Regions from separate parts of the Homo sapiens genome. Here region 2 is linked to region 1. Evidence: fine-mapped expression QTL. Tissue or cell type: whole blood. Region 1 holds a variant in brackets; the other region holds the start of a gene. All regions are shown on one strand. Distances are from middle to middle.

What was found. PIP is the estimated chance that this variant, and not a neighbour inherited with it, causes the effect.
Region 2: it holds the start of PPT1, and the variant in region 1 is fine-mapped to the expression of PPT1 in whole blood (TOPMed, PIP above 0.99).

What each region holds. Positions count from the first base shown.
Region 1 is chr1:40,120,556-40,128,661 of GRCh38, forward strand. No RefSeq gene overlaps it. Among named protein-coding and RNA genes, the nearest start is that of PPT1, 27 kb to the left of the region's middle. The variant C/G (reference allele first, on the strand shown) is at 4,118.
Region 2 is chr1:40,093,519-40,101,624 of GRCh38, forward strand. PPT1 (palmitoyl-protein thioesterase 1) reads right to left here and starts at 3,734. Exons shown (of 9, transcript NM_000310.4): 1 at 3,597-3,734. The coding sequence starts at 3,720. RefSeq lists an enhancer at 3,469-3,598.

The DNA.
Region 1 (8,106 bases):
TTTCAGCTCAAATGGGAGTCCCTCGGAGATGCCTTCCCAAGACCATCAGTCTACAATACAAGGCAGCACTGTTTTTTATTTTCTTCAGAGCAATGTTTACTCTTGTCCATTTTTGTTTACTTGATTATTATCAAACTCTTCTGTCTAAAGGAGGACTAACCAGTAGAATTTTCTGCAATGATGGAAGTATTGTTATATTTGAGCTGTCCAATATAGTAGCCACTAGTTACCATATGACTCCTATGCACTTGACATGTGGCTAGTGTGAATGAGTAAAAGAATTTTTAATTTAATTTAATTTAATTTTAACTGATTTAAATTTAGATAGCCACATGTGGCCAGTGGCTACTGTACTGGACAACACAGTTCTAGTATGTAAGCTTTGAGAGAGCAGGGATTCAATCTTATGCTTTGCCATATCTCCAGAACCTAGAACAATTAAATACTTCTAACCAAGATATTCTTTGGAGGATGGAGTCTTGTCAGTGTCTAACATTTGGGTCAGATGTGGCCAGCAATGAGTCATTCATTGATTTGGCTTTTGTCTTAGGAACATCAAGATGAAGATCAAGGAGATCCCTTTTCTTCAAAACATTGCTGAAAAAGATAGTGTAACAACATTGCAGAAAAAATTTTAAAAGTAAGTAACCTCCTACAATTCTTCCAGCAAACATTGCAACTGTTTTAATTTTTTGCATACTGTCTTCCAGATTTTGTTCACATGCAGGTGTCTTTTCAATATTTTGCAGACACAGAGGACACCATCAAAACTTTGTCCTTGGGGGCTGGGCACGGTGGCTCATGCCTGTAATCCCAGCACTTTGGGAGGCCAAGGCAGGCGGATCATTTGAGGTCAGGAGTTTGAGACCAGCCTGGCCAACATGGTGAAACTCTGTCTCTACTAAAAATACAAAAATTAGCCAGGCGTGGTGGCGCGTGCCTGTAATCTCAGCTACTCTGAGGCAGGAGAATTGCTTGAACTCAGGAGGTTGAGGTTGCAGTGAGCCAAGATTGCGCCATTGCATTCTAGCCTGTGCGACACAGACTCCATCTCAAAAAACAAAAACAAAAACAAAAACAAATACCTTTGTCCTTGGAGAACATCTCCAATGCCCAGCCAGGTCTTAGCTCAGAAGGAACCTGACTATTGGAGTCATTTCCTGTGGCTCACCCAGTGAAGAGATCTTACCACCCCACAGCCACTTGGAGAGCCCCGTGCATTGAAGACACTGGGTTTGGCCCTGGGTATATAGCAATTGAAGATCATTTGTGAAGGACTGATATTGAAGAAGGCAGGGGCTATGCTGGCTTATTCATTCATCCAACAACTACTATACTGTGCTATTGAATATCATAAATATTTTCCTTATTTGTACAGGGTCTACTATTTTCCTTTTTATGGCTGAGTAGCAGACACACCAAAATCTACTAAACCTATTCTTTGTGGATTGTAGACCATTTAACTTATGCCCATTATTGGATCTTACAGAATTCTGTAATTAACTCTTCCTGCATGGAGCTTTTTACTTTTGTTGTATTATTTCCTTATAGTGTAGTAGTTGCTTATGTGTATAGGTTCTGGAAAGAGATGATCTGGTTTTTAACACTATCCATGGTAGTTTGGGCAAATTTCTTAACTTCTCTATATCTCAGTATTTCATTTATCAAGAAGGGTCACTAATAACACCTTCCTCATAGGATTGTTGTGAGAATTGAAATGAATAAATTACATGTAAAGTGCTTGGTTCTGAGTTAGTACTCTATACAGAATAACAACTGCTGTTATTATTAATTCTTGATCCAGGAGTAATTTCAAGGATATTAATATTTTCAAGACTGTTTCTAGATTGTGGTAATGGTTGTACAACTCTGCAAATATATTAAAAGTCATTGAACTATACACTCAATAAAAGCCTTTTGCTAATTATGGCTATTTTGTTTTCCCAAATGGTATTCCTATTTTCATTCCTATCCTCACCTCAATTTTATCACAATCTCATCAGAAATGGGGGCTACTATTTTAAATACAGTTTTCTTTATTTGAGAAAGGTCAAATAGAACCCTTAATGTGCTTTCTCTTGCATTTTTTACCTTATTACTAGCAACGAATGCATGTATTGTTTACTCTTTGCTTCCTATTGAATATTTGCTCCCTCTTGCTCTAACTCTGCCCATTTTACTTCTGTGGCTGAAGTCCTTTTTCTTGAATAATCTATTTCTTAGTATGTCTTAATTTACTAATAATAGTGAGTTGGTCTCTAAAAGGAAAGCTTTGAAAAAGCTAATTGTTTTCTCCTTAAAGGGCTCCTCAATATTCTACCAGACCTATGTTCTCATTAGCCAAGGGCCTTCTCCCAACATAGTCTTTCCATCCTAATGTACCTGCAGCATTTTTCCCAGGGCCTGCACTCTAAAGACTTGATAAGAAAAACTTTGAACACATGCTCCTTTCTTCTTGCTTTTCATATCTACTGATTGGGCTTGGAATTCTGCCAAGATAAACAGTGTCCTCTGCTCTTCAGGAAAATGCAAGGCTTCTCAACCATCTTTGAGGGGCCTGCTTCAGATGACAATTTCACAACATGTTCACAGGGCAAACTTGGATTGAGAAGACCCCCAATTTAGAGACAATAAATCTCCAACTGGAAAGAAAGCATCACTACTTTCCCTAGTACAGTAATGTTAATTGAAATATACAGAATGTTGTAACTCTTGCAGTTCCATTTAAGTGAACTAGGGATGACAGCAAAAGAGGCTGACAAGCTGGCCAAACAGGGACTTCCTAGCCCAGGGTCTGAGCTCTGTCAGTGTGCCCAAAGAGGATTAGGCTCAAAGAGTAGACTCATAATAACCAAACTCACAGGAGTTTGAAGTCTATACCTTCATAAAGGATTTCTGAAAGTTCTGTTTGTGACAGACGTGCCCTGAAGATGAGGCAAGGAGTGCAGGTGTTAGTCTGTTTATGTGGGAAAGGACTGGAAACTCTCTAAGGGGACAGAGTGTTCTTCGCTGGGTGTATATTGCTTGTTCAGATGATACCCTGAGACCACAGATGGGTCCTTGGCTTTTTCCTTCTGAATATACAACTGAAGATGTTAACCCAGGATAGTCTGTGGTTCAGGAGTGGCCACTAGCAGCACTTCCAGGCACCTCCATCCTGAGGGAGAACACTGCTAGGAGAAGGATGGGCAATTAGGGAGAATGAGGCTGTTGGGTCATTGCTTACTCCTTTGTCTATTGGTACCCAATAAATAAGCATACTTCCCCTTCTTAAAATAGCCTCATGTTAGGAGGGCTCCATTCAATTGTTTCTTGTGGGTGGATTTGAAAGAACTGAAATTTCTTCTATCCTTAATTCTCTTGTCTCACTCAGGAACGAAATATGCCAGTGTATTAATAAACATGCTCTTTGATGAGAATGCTCTTCTCTTCTCAGAAGCAAAATAAAATGCTAGCAGTTCAGGCCTGAAAAGCACTAAGATCCTGAAGCTCAGCTTTATTGCATTTTGGCTAACAACACTAGGCCGTTAGAAAAAAAGAGAATCTATTCAAGCAGACACAGTTCATTATTTACTTAGAAAAAATACAAACTCTTATTCTAAGTAAAATAAAAAATGCACACAAGATTATTTCACCATAACAATTATCAAAATGTGTAGACTTTACTCAAAGTAATTGAACTATACAGGCCTCAGCAATTCCTGATTGTTTGCTGGCTGCCCCAGAGTTATTTTTATGCCAGCTACCAGAATGTGATGACTTAGTAATAGTTAAATGGCATTTTGTAATAAACAGACAAGCTAAATTATAATGATCAATGGCCCTTAGTAAAATTATATGATTATAGCCATCAGAGAAAAAAAAATCCACAGGTAAGAAAGAATTGGATAACTGCATTAAATGTTTAATCAGGCTATGCAAAAATAACACAACAGAACACTTCTAGAGAATGTAGCTGGTCTCAAATATGCCTTCTATTTGGGAGTCATAAGTTTCCTTTTTTTTTTTTTCGAGACAGAGTTTTGCTCTTGTCGCCCAGGCTAGAGTGCAATGGTACGATCTTGGCTCATTGCAACCTCCGCCTCCTGGGTTCAAGCAATTCCTTGCCTCAGCCTCC[C/G]GAGTAGCTGGGATTACAGGCACCCACCACCACGCCCAGCTAATTATCCTTAAGAACTGCTCGGGGAGACAGATTTGAGTAATAATAAAACTCTGTTCTCCCGCACAGCAGGCTCTGCTTGAATTACTCTTTCTGTATTGCAATTCCCCTGTCTTGATGAATCGGCTCTGTCTAGACAGTGGGCAAGGTGAACTCCTTGGGCGGTTACACAACTGGGATTGGAGACGAACAGGAGAGTATTATAGTCAGAAGGAGGAGGCCCTGTGGGAGGAGTAAGTGTAGAATCTACCTGTCATGTTGGTGCTCTTAACACTGTGGATCAGATCAAAACCACCAGAAAGCTATGTATTTGTTAGTAGCCATACCTACCAGGGAGAAAAGACCAGTAATTATTACCAACATTTATTGAGCACTTACTATGAACCATGAACTTTCTTAGAGGTTATGAAAATTAACTAATTTAGTTAGTTAATTAAATTCAACCACCTTACGAAGTGAGCTCAATCATCCTCAATTTTCAATGTAGAAACCAAGACATGAAGTTAAGGGCAAAGTGAGACAACTAATAAGAAACAGAATTTGAAGCTAGTAATTCTGACTACAGAGCCAAAGAACCTAACCTGACTGCTACATATAGCTTGCAAGGTCTTAGGAGACTTTAGGAGCTCATGAGGCACAATGGCATCTCGGGGTCAGACACAGTTCTGAGGAATCAACTTTTGCAAAGGATTTTAATGGCCTCAGCCTGCACATACTAAACCATTCCATCCCAGTCCAGTGCCCCTTCTCCATCACAATCAAGTGCCATAATCAGTAGTTTATAGGCAGTAGTGGGTGGAGGATATTTTTGACTGAGAGAGCTGGGAAGAGGAAGACATTTTGTCCAAATTAAGAGGTGTTTGCTGCCTTACCTTCTTGTGAGATCTTGATGCTTGGAATGTTTTGGAACAAACATTCCAAGCAAATACATGTTGCTTGGAATGCAACACGTAGCATCTTCCCATAAGCCTTGGTAATGCTCTCAGATGGACACTCAAAAATACCTGATACCAGCTGGGTACAGTGGCTCATGTCTGTAATCCTAGCACTTTAGGAGGCTGAGGTGGGTGGATTACTTGAGCCCAGGAGTTCGAGACCAGCTTGGGCAACATAGCAAGACTCCGTCTCTAATTTTATTTTTATTTTTAAAAAAATATTTCTTAAAAAATAAAATAAAATAAAAAAGACATAAAAAAGAACACCGATACCACATACAACAAGGCTGTTCCTTCCCCAATATTTAGCAATATACCAAGAGAAAATAAATTCTGAGAACGTTTTCCAACAATTCTCCATACTGCAAAGAGGAGATTGTACAATATTACTGAAAGAAAAACAAAGAAACATAGAAACAGAAAGAAGATAAATCAGGTCAAGATGTCCAAGGACTGCAGACTTCTGTACCCAAAGCTGGGTGCCTGGTTTTCTTAATGACCATAATGTCCCATCTTCATTTCTACTTTATTTTTTGTGTTCTTGACGTAAGTGGATTCAAATACCTTTGTTTTTTATGAATTAGAACACAGATAAATCTATTTAATAAGTCATAAATTATTGACATAAAAATCTTTACTTATGAGAAATAAGTGCAGCATAAAGTGCAGACCAACAGTAGGAGCCAGATCATCTTATAAGTTTTTTTTTTAATTGAGACAGTCTCACTCTGTCGCCCAGGCTGGAGTGCAGTGGTGTGATCTTGACTCACTGCAACCTCCATCTCCCAGGTGCAAGCGATTCTCCTGCCTCAGCCTTCCCGGTAGCTGGGATTACAGGAACATGCCACCACACCTGGGTAATTTTTGTATTTTCACTAGAGACGAGGGTTTCACCATGTTGGCCAGGCTGGTCTCAAACCCCTGACCTCAAGTGATCCACCCTCCTCGGCCTCCCAAAGTGCTGAGATTACAGACATGAGCCACCGAGCCCAGCTTTTTTTTTTTTTTTTTTTGAGACAGGGCTTTGCCATGTTGCCCAGGTTGGCCTCGAACTCCTAGACTCACATAATCTGTCTGGCTAGGCCTCCTAAAGTGCTGGGATTACAGCCATACCCCCAGTTTTGTAAATAAAAAAGTCTAGGTCAGGTGAGGTGGCTCACCTATTAAAAATACAAAAATTAGCTGGGCGTGATGGCAGGCACCTGTAATCCCAGCTACTCGGGAGGCTGAGACAGGAGAATCACTTGAACCTGGGAGGCAGAGGTTGCAGTGAGCCAAGATTGCACCACTGCACTCTAGTCTGGGCAACAGAGTAAGACTCAGTCTCAAAAATAAACAACAATGACAACAACAAATGGGGGTAGGGAGTGATGGAATAAATTATTTTTATCAATTCTTTTTTTTTGAGACAGAGTCTGGCTCTGTCACCTAGGCTGGAGTGCAGTGGCATGCTCTCGGCTCTCTGCAACCTCCCCTCCCGGGTTCAGGCAATTCTCCTGCCTCAGCCTCCGGAGCAGCTGAGATTATAAACTTATAAGCTTGCCACCATGCCCAGCTAATTTTTGTATTTTTAGCAGAGATGGGGTTTTACCATGTTGGCCAGGCTGATCTCGAACTCTTGGCCTCAAGTGATCTGCTCGCCTTGGCCTCCCAAAGGGCTGGGATTACAGGTGTGAGCCACCACTCCCTGCTTCTTTTTGGCAATTCTTTCAGCTCCAAGATTTTGTGCTTCTATGGTGTCAGATTTATCAATATAACTTAATAGTTCTCTACTTCTTCTTTTTTTTTTTTTTTTTTTGAGGAATACCGCTAAAAAGGACAGGAAAGAAAATTGTACCATATCTGGGAATTTAAATTAAAAGTTGTAGGCAACATCTCCATATTTAGATACTGAAAAGAAAATACTCAAATTTCAGTTCAAGACAATATAAATGTGCCAAACTAGTTGTATTAACTAGGAGCCATGTATTGAGCAAAACAGTAGAATAGTTGGGCGTGGTGGCGTGCACCTGTAGTCCCAGCTACTCCAGAGGCTGAAGCGGGAGGATCACTTATGCCCAGGAGTTTGAGGCTGTCGCGTATTGTGATTATGCCTGTAAATAGCCACTGAACTCCAGCCTGGGCAACATAGTGAGACCCTGCTCTAAAATAATAACAATAATCTTAAGTTATCTTACTTTTTTTTTGAGCAGAGTCTCACTCTGTTGCCCAGGCAGGAGTGCATTGGTGTGATCTCTGCTCACTGCAACCTCTGCCTCTCAGACTCAAGCGGACAGGTGTGGCAGCTTACACCTATAATCCCAGCACTTTGGAAGGCTGAGGTGGGAGAATTGCTTGAGGCCAGGAGTTGAGAACCAGTCTGGGCAACAAAGCAAGACCCTGTATCTACCCCTGCTCCCCGCCAAGAAAGAAAAAGCTGGGTATAGTGGCGCATGCCTGTAGTCTCAGCTACTCTGGAGGCTGAGATGGGAGGATTGCTTGAGCCAAAGAGTTTGAGGCTGTAATGAGCTACGATCACACCACTGCACTACAGGTTGGGTGACAGAGCAAGACCTGTCTCAACCAAAAACTGAAAACTAAAGTCAGAGATGGAGGATGTCAGGAGTGTAAGAGACTAATCCATGAATTTTCAAAAAGTCTTGTCTAGAGTTAAGAGTGTATTATTGGCCGAGGGCAGTGCCTCACACCTGTAATCCCAGCACTTTGGGAGGCTGAGGTGGGCAGATCATCTGTGGTCAGAAGTTTGAGACCAGTCTGGCCAACGTGGTGAAATCTTGCCTTTACTAAAAATACAAAAATTAGCCAGGTGTGGTGGCTTCATGCCTGTAATCCCAGCTACTCAGGAGGCTGAGGCAGGAGAATCGCTTGAACATGGGGAGCAGGAGTTGCAGTGAGCCGAGATCTCACCATTGCATTCCAGCCTGGGTGACAGAGCGAGACTCCATCTCAAAAAAAAAAAAAAAAGAAAGAAAGAAAGAAAGTGCTATTAGGTATAATTTACAATATATAATTTAG
Region 2 (8,106 bases), 27 kb before region 1:
CCTCAATTTTAAAAAACAGAAGAAAGAACATTTTTTGCTTAGCTCCTGTTTATCAAGTAATAACAAGCTTCAAAAGTCCATACAGGAGCTGGGTGTCATGGCTCACGTCTGTAATCCCAGCAGTTTGGGAGGCCGAGGTGGGTGGATCACAAGGTCAGGAGCTCGAGACCAGCCTGGGCAACATGGTGAAACCCCATCTCTACTAAATATACAAAAATTAGCCGGGTGTGGTGGCACATGTCTGTAGTCCCGCTACTTGGGGGGCTGAGGCAGGAGAATCGCTTGAAACTGAAAGGTGGAGGTTTCAGTGAGCCAAGATCATGCCACTGCACTCCAGCCTGGGCAACAGAACAAGGCTCCATCTCAAAAAAAAAAAAAAAAAAAAATCCATATAGGCCAAGCATGGGCTCATACCTATCATCCCAGCGCTTTGGTAAGACGAGGCAGGAGGATTGCTTGAGGCCAAGAGTTCGAGACCAGTTTGGGCAACATAACGAGACCCTGTCTCAAAAAAACCAAAAAGCCCATATAGGATAATTAAGACACCAAATTTACAAATGAAAAATAAGCAGAGGTACACATTCCCTTCCCCTATCACAGGGGATATTTGGGGTGAACAGATGCAAAGTTTTCTCTTCAGGGCCAGGACTAGGGTGAGGCAAATTAAGCATCTAGGACAGCGGTCTTCAACCTTTTTGGCACCAGGGACCAGGTTTGTGGAAGACAATTTTTCAAAACTGTTCCACCTCAGATCATCAGGCATTTGCTAGATTCTCATAAGGAGCACCCAATCCAGATCCCTCACATGCGCAGTTCACAACAGCATTTGAGCTCTTTGAGAATCTAATGCCACTGCTGATCTGACAGGAGGTAGAGCTCATGGTGGTAAGGCTGCAGGCTCACTCACCTCCTGCTGTGTGGCTAGTTCCTAACAGGTCACAGACCCAGGGAGTTTGGGACCCCCGCTCTAGGGCACAAAATTTAAGGAGGCACTCATTCTCAGGTTTATGTAAGTGTTGACCCTGAATTTGAGAGTGAGTGCCTCCTTAAATTTGCACTTCAGGAGCCTCTTCATCTTGTCCTAGCCCCAGACTTGTTTCTTCTATTTCAGGGAACTAGAACTAGGAACAGGAAGCAAACTGGCTACTGAGTAGAAGTGGACTGAGATCATTTCCCATTTTGAACTTACTTATTCCATTTTCAACCTGCGAGAAAGCTTAAGCACCAATTTTAGAACAAGAAAAGGCTACTGCCTAGAGAATTGTCTATTCCTTTTATTTCTCTGAAAACAACGTTCTCCACACTGAGCTGTAATTGTAGGTTACTTAACTGCCTCTGCCTCCCCTGTAACTGACTGTGAGCTCTGGGAAAACACAAAGCTCCTACCCTGTGTCCTCTTTTGACCCCACTGTAGTAGCCCCAGGGCCTGTTGGAGAACCTTGCAAGTGTTTGTATTTGCTGACTCTAATTACTCTGAATATTTTTCTGTAACCCATCCCAATAAAGATCTCACTATCACGACTCTCCCAAAACTGCTTTTGTCAAGATTAATCATCTTTATATTGCTAAATCCAATAATCAGTTGTCAGCCTTTATCTTCCTTGACCCATTAACATTTGATACAGTTGATCATGACCTATCAACATTTGATGCAGTTGATCATGCCCTTCTTCCTGAAACATTTTCTTCACTTGGCTTCAAGGACACTGCGCTTTCCTGACCCCTCCACTTCACCGGCTATTTGGTTACAGCCTCCTTTGCTAGTTTCTCCTCATTTCCTCCACCTCCAAATGGAATGGAGTGCCTCAGGGCTTAGTCCTCTGTGTACGCTCATTTCCTAGGTGGTCTCACCTAGCCTTTAACTACTAGCTGTATGCCGAAGACTCCCTACTTAAATCTCCAACCCGTATCTCTGTCCTAGACTCCACACTCCAAATGCCTCTACAACATCTCCTGGGTGTCTCATGAGGATCTCAAGTTTAGTAAGCCCAAAAGCAGACTCTTGATCTTTCCCCCACCCTAAGTCAGCTTGTCCTACAGGCTTCCCCATCTTGGTAAAATGAAAACTTCACCCTTCCAATTGTTCAGGCCAAAACCTGTGGAGTCATCTTTGGCTCCTTTCTTTCTCTCTTATTCCAAGTCTGATCTGTTAGCAATCCACCTTCAAAATCTATCCAAACTTTGACCACTTCTCAACACCTCTACTGTTACTCTACAGTTCCAAGTCATCATCTCTTGTTTAAATTATTGCAATAGTTTCCTAACCTGTCTCCCTGTGACCATCCATGACGCCCTACGATCTATTCTTAATACAGCAACTAAAGTGATTCTTTAAAAATGTGTCAGATCATGTCACTCATCTGCTCAAAAAGTTCCCCATGACACTCTAGCCAAAGTCCCTGCATTAGTCTTACTAGGCCCAATAACTTCTGTACCTGCCCCTCCCTTCCAAACTAAACTCCTAACTTCTTCCCCTTGCTTACTCATTTCCAGCCACGCTGATCTGAATGCTGTCCCTTGAACACACCAGACATACTTCCACATCAGGGCTTTCCCATTTACTGTTCCTTCTACCAGACAGCCAAATGGCAACTGTCCTCATCTACCTCAGTTTTGTACTCAGATGTCACTTTTTCAATGAATTCTTTCCCAACTTTGCTTTATTAAAAGTGCAAGCCCCCACCTCCAGTTTTTATCCTACACCCTACTATATTTTTCTCTGTTGCACATATCACCATTTGATATGTTATGTTTTACTTGTTAATTTCTTTATAATCTGCTTCTCCTACTGGAGAGTAGGTTCCAAAAGAACAAAGAATTTAGTCTGTTTAGTTCCCTACTGTATCCTCAGCACCTAGTAGGTGCTCAATAACTGTGTTAAATGAATATAGGTTGAGCATCCTAATCTGAAAATGGGAAACCCAAAATCTGAAAGTTTTTCAGCGCAGACATGATGCCACAAGTGGAAAATTCCACACCTGACCTCATGTGATGGGTTGCACAAAATTATTTAAAATATTGCATAAAATTACCTTCCAGCTATGTGTATAAGGTGTATATGAAAAATAAATAAATTTCCTGTTTACACTTGGGTCCCACCCCCCAGATCTCTTGTATATATGCAAATATTAAAAAAAAAAAAATCCGAAATGCTTCCCAGTCCCAAGCATTTCAGATAAGGGTTACTCAATTTGTAAATGAACTGTAGGTGCCTAACAAATCTCTGTTCAATGTGTGAAGGAATAAATAAAAGGGTAGATGCGCCAGTCATATAGCCAGCCGCAGCTCACCTAGCCTGACCAAGTGAGAGATGCTGCATCCTGACGCCACTACTGTAAGGATTAATCAAGGACAGCATGTAAAACTTCAACGCCGTGCGCGGCTCTCTCTTTCCTTCCCCTTCTCTCTTTCCAGTGAAGGGGACGGCTCCTTCCCCTTCTCTCTTTCCAATGCAGATCCTTCAAATCCTAAAATGTCGAGGCAGCCGCGTGCTGTGGGACCACGTCCTCGCCCTCTACACCCGCATTTTGCAGATGCGAACCCAGGCTAGGAAGAGAGAGAATCGCCAAACCCTTTTAAATTTCTCACTCACTCACCCATCCCATGCCAGATCACCAACGGCAGCGGCGCCGGCGGGTCCAGATGCTGCAGCGCCCGAGAAGCGCAGGTCCATGGCAGGAGAGCCACAGCCAAGAGCCACAGGCAGCCGGGCGACGCCATCTTCGCTGTGTCACATGACCGCGGGCGCGAGACTCCGGGAACCGCGCTCCGCCCGCCTGGGCGTGGCGCCGCCGGTTGCAGATCGCAACCTGCGCATCCCGAACGGATGCCCAGCCTGATGGGCGTCGGCCCTACCCTGGAGCTTTCAGCGCGACAGGTCCCCCGCCAGACCCCGCTGGCCGAGTGGGGCTCTGCGCTCTCGTAGACCGCCCTCTGCGGTGAATCAAAATAATTGCTAACATATATTCAGTGCTGATCAGATGCTATCAGGCACTATTCTTACAACCTTTAACTAATTCACTCTTCATAACAATGCTGTATGCACTTCTCCCCCTGACAGGTGAGGACACTGAGGCACTGCGAATTGGCACTGAGTAAGGTGCCCAAGGTCACAGAGATAGCAAATTGGTGGTTCCAAAGTCGTTGCTCTTCACCACTGCCCTGTACTGCCTTTGCAAGAAACATGCACAGAGGAAGGAAGAAAGAAGGAGGGACGGTTTCCAGCCAGGACCAATCATGGCAGGGTGTGGGGTTTGTTCTGGATATTGAAGGAGAGGTAGGATTTCAACAAGCAAAGATGAAATTCAGAAGGACTGAGATGAGCTAAGGTAGAGAGGAGAAAGACAACTGTGTTTTCTAGAAATGTCGGGACTTCAAGACGGACGAAAGCATATGTTGGATGCATAAGAGTGAGGGGGAAACCCATGGCCACTAACTGGCCTAATCTCAGCTGGATTATTTCAAGGGTCTCTCATCAACCATTTCCTTTTCCATTCTCTCCTCTTTAATTCATTTTATGCTCTATTGCCACATTCATCCCTCAATCCACCTTCATAATATCAGTTCCCTGCTCAAGTTTTTTTTCAACAAAACATCAAAAAATAGTTTAAATAATTTATAAAGAAATTAGAGTGTATCCACTATACAATGGAATAATATGAGGCCAGTTTTATAAAAAATGAGTATAGGGCCGGGCGCGGTGGCTCACTCCTGTAATCCCAGCACTTTGGGAGGCTGAGGTGGGCAGATCATCTAAGGTAGCGAGTTCGAGACCAGCCTGACCAACATGGAGAAATCCCGTCTCTACTAAAATTACAAAATTAGCCGGGTGTGGTGGCGCATACTTGTAATCCCAGCTACTCAGGAGGCTGAGGCAGGAGAATCTCTTGAACCCGGGAGGCAGAGGTTGCGGTAAGCTGAGATCATACCATTGTACTCCAGCCTGGGCAACAAGAGCAAAACTCTGTCTCAAAAAATAAGAATAAAAAATAAATAAAAAGAGAGTACAGCCCAGGCAGCATAGCAAGACCCCATCTCTACAAAAAAAAAATTTTTTTTTAATTAGCCAGGGGTGGTGGTATGTGCCTGTAATCCTAGCTACTGGGGAGGCTAAGGTGGGAGGATCACTTGAGCCCAGGAGTTCAAGGCTGCATTGAGCTATGATCTCGCCATTGCACTGAGCTATGATCTCGCTGTTGCCCTGGGCAACAGTGAGACCCTGTCTCTCTCAAAAAAGAAAAATGAGGTAAATTTACATAAAGTGACATGAAAAATGCCCTTAATATGTTGTAAAAGAAAAGTCGATTACAAACCCACGGTCTGTAATCTCTTCTATTCCATGCCATTGGGACTAGAGGTAAGTTGTTAGTTGAAAAGTCGATTAAAATGCAGAATCCACTGGGCGCACTTTGGGAGGCTGAGGCAGGTGGATCACCTGAGGTTGGGAGTTTGAGACCAGCCTGGCCAACATGATGAAACCCCATCTCTACTAAAAATACAAAAAATTAGCCGGGCATGGTGGTGGGTGCCTGTAATCCCAGCTACTCAGGAGGCTGAGACAGGAGAATCACTTGAACCCAGGAGGCAGAGGGTGCAGTGAGCCAAGATTGAGCTACTGCACTCCAGCCTGGGCAACAAGAGTGAAACTCTGTCTCAAAGAAAAAAAAATGCAGAATCATAAAGCATTATACAGTACAGTATACAGTTTTGTTTTAAGAAAAATAAGCTTATTGTATAAGCATTTTATTTTAACTTAAGACTTACAAATTGAAGTAGTTTCAGGATTTTTCTGTGAATATAGCCCGCTCAATGAAGTTTCCTGCCTTTAATGAACTATTTATAATTTCTTTAAAGGTTTCTTTAAACTGGAGCAATAACTGAAAGACACTTGTGAAGCAATCTGAATGCAATTTTTTTTTTTTTTTGAGACAGGGTCTTGTTCTGTCCCCCAGACTGGAGTGCAGTGGCGTGATCTTGGCTCACTGTAACCTCCACCTCCCGGGTTCAAGCGATTCTCGTGCCTCTGCCTCCCGAGTAGCTGGGATTACAGACACACCACCAACATGCCCCGCTAATTTTTTGTGTTTTTTGTAGAGACAGGGTTTCGCCATGTTGCCCAGGCTGGTCTCGAACTCCTGAGCTCAGGCAATCCGCCCCCCTCAGCCTCCCAAAGTTCTAGGATCACAGCTGTGAGCCATTGTGCCAGACCAACATTCTTTTTGTTTTTTATTTTTGATTCAGGGTCACATATGCAAGTTTGCTATATAGGTAAGTTGTATGTCAAGGAGGTTGGGTGTACGTTTTATTTTGTCACTGCCATAATGAACATAGTACCCAATAGGTAACTTTTCATTTCCACCCTCATGTAGGCCCCAGTGTCTGTTGTTCCCTTCTTTGTGTCCATCTGTACTTAATGTTTAGCTCCCACTTATAAGTGAGAACATGTGGTATTTGGTTTTGTTTTCCTGCATTAGTTTGCTTAGGATAATGACCTAAGCAGTTCCATCTATGTTGCTGCAAAGGACATTATCTCATTCCTTTTTTGGCTGTGTAGTATGCTATGGTGTATACCTACCACATTTTCTTTATCCAGTCTACTGTTGATGGATACTTAGGTTAATTCCATGTCTTTGCTATTATGAATAGTGCTATGATGACTTTTTTTTTTTTTTTTTTTTTTTGCGACAGGGTCTTGCTCTATTCCCCAAGTTGGACTGCAGTGACACAATCATAGCTTACTGCAGCCTGGAACTCCTGGGCTCAAGGGATCCTCCCGCCTCAGCCTCTCAAAGTGCTGGGATTACAGGTGTGAGCCACAGTGTTTGGATGTGAAATTATTCTAGATGGAAGACTTTCCACTCTCAGATTTCCGACCCAGAGTTACTTTAACAATTTTTTTTAACAACTTGCCTTTAACAAGCTTTTCCAATGCATTCAACTTAGTTTTCACAGAAACATCTCTTTTCTCTTTATGCTCATATTTCATGTTTTCAAAAATTTAACTAAATTATGATAGCAAATATCACCGATATATTAATAAATAAATAAAATAAGCCCAAAGGCATTTAGTAAGCAAGTAGCTCAATTGACAGGAACAGAACTACCCAAGAGTTCTGAAAAGCAGCCTCTAGCCATGTGGGCATGCTGTGGGCATAGGTAAGTAGGTAAGTACATTTTAGAACTGGGAGAGTAAGTTAAACAGGGCATAAGAAAATAACTATGTATTTATGTACATACATATATGATGGTTGTACAACTCTATAAATTTACTAAAAATCATTGGTTTGTACACATAAAATGGGTGACTTTTATGGCATGTGGAATATATTTCAATAAAGCTGTTCTTTTTTTAAAGAAGACATCTGTGTATTTATATATTTGTACATTATCACTGAAAGGTCAAAGCATTGCCAAGAAAAAAGAGGCTGGGTGCGGTGGCTCACGCCTGTAATCCCAGCACTTTGGGAGGCTGAGGCGGGTGGATCACGAGGTCAGGAGATCGAGACCATCCTGGCTAACACGGTGAAACCCCGTCTCTACTAAAAAATACAAAAAATTAGCCGGGCGTGGTGGCAGGCACCTGTAGTCCCAGCTACTCGGGAGGCTGAGGCAGGAGAATGGTGTGAGCCCGGGAGGCGGAGCTTGCAGTGAGCCAAGATCGAGCCACTGCACTCCAGCCTGGGCGACAGAGCGAGACCCCATCTTAAAAAAAAAAAAAAGAAAGAAAGAAAAAAGAAAGAAAATAAATATTTAAAAAGATCTGGAGACCGTTAAAAGTAATATTCTTGAGGGCAGTATTACAAGGAACTTTCACTTTTTACTTTATATACTTGTGTTTGGTTTGAAATTTTACAGCAAGGATATACAATTTTTATAATAAAAATGGAAAATATACACACATTAAAAATTATTAGACTTCTAGATTAAGAAAATGGAGTAAAGCTATCTCACAGACTCTGTTTCAACCAATATCTAGGAAAGTTTAAAAAGTTAAAATTGTATCCACGGCAAAAAAACGTCAGTATCTTAAATGTCAGTAAGTGGTGGTCAAGGAAATAAATAGAAGATTCTGGGCTGGAGCATGTCAAGGCTTCCAGTTCTGCCTTC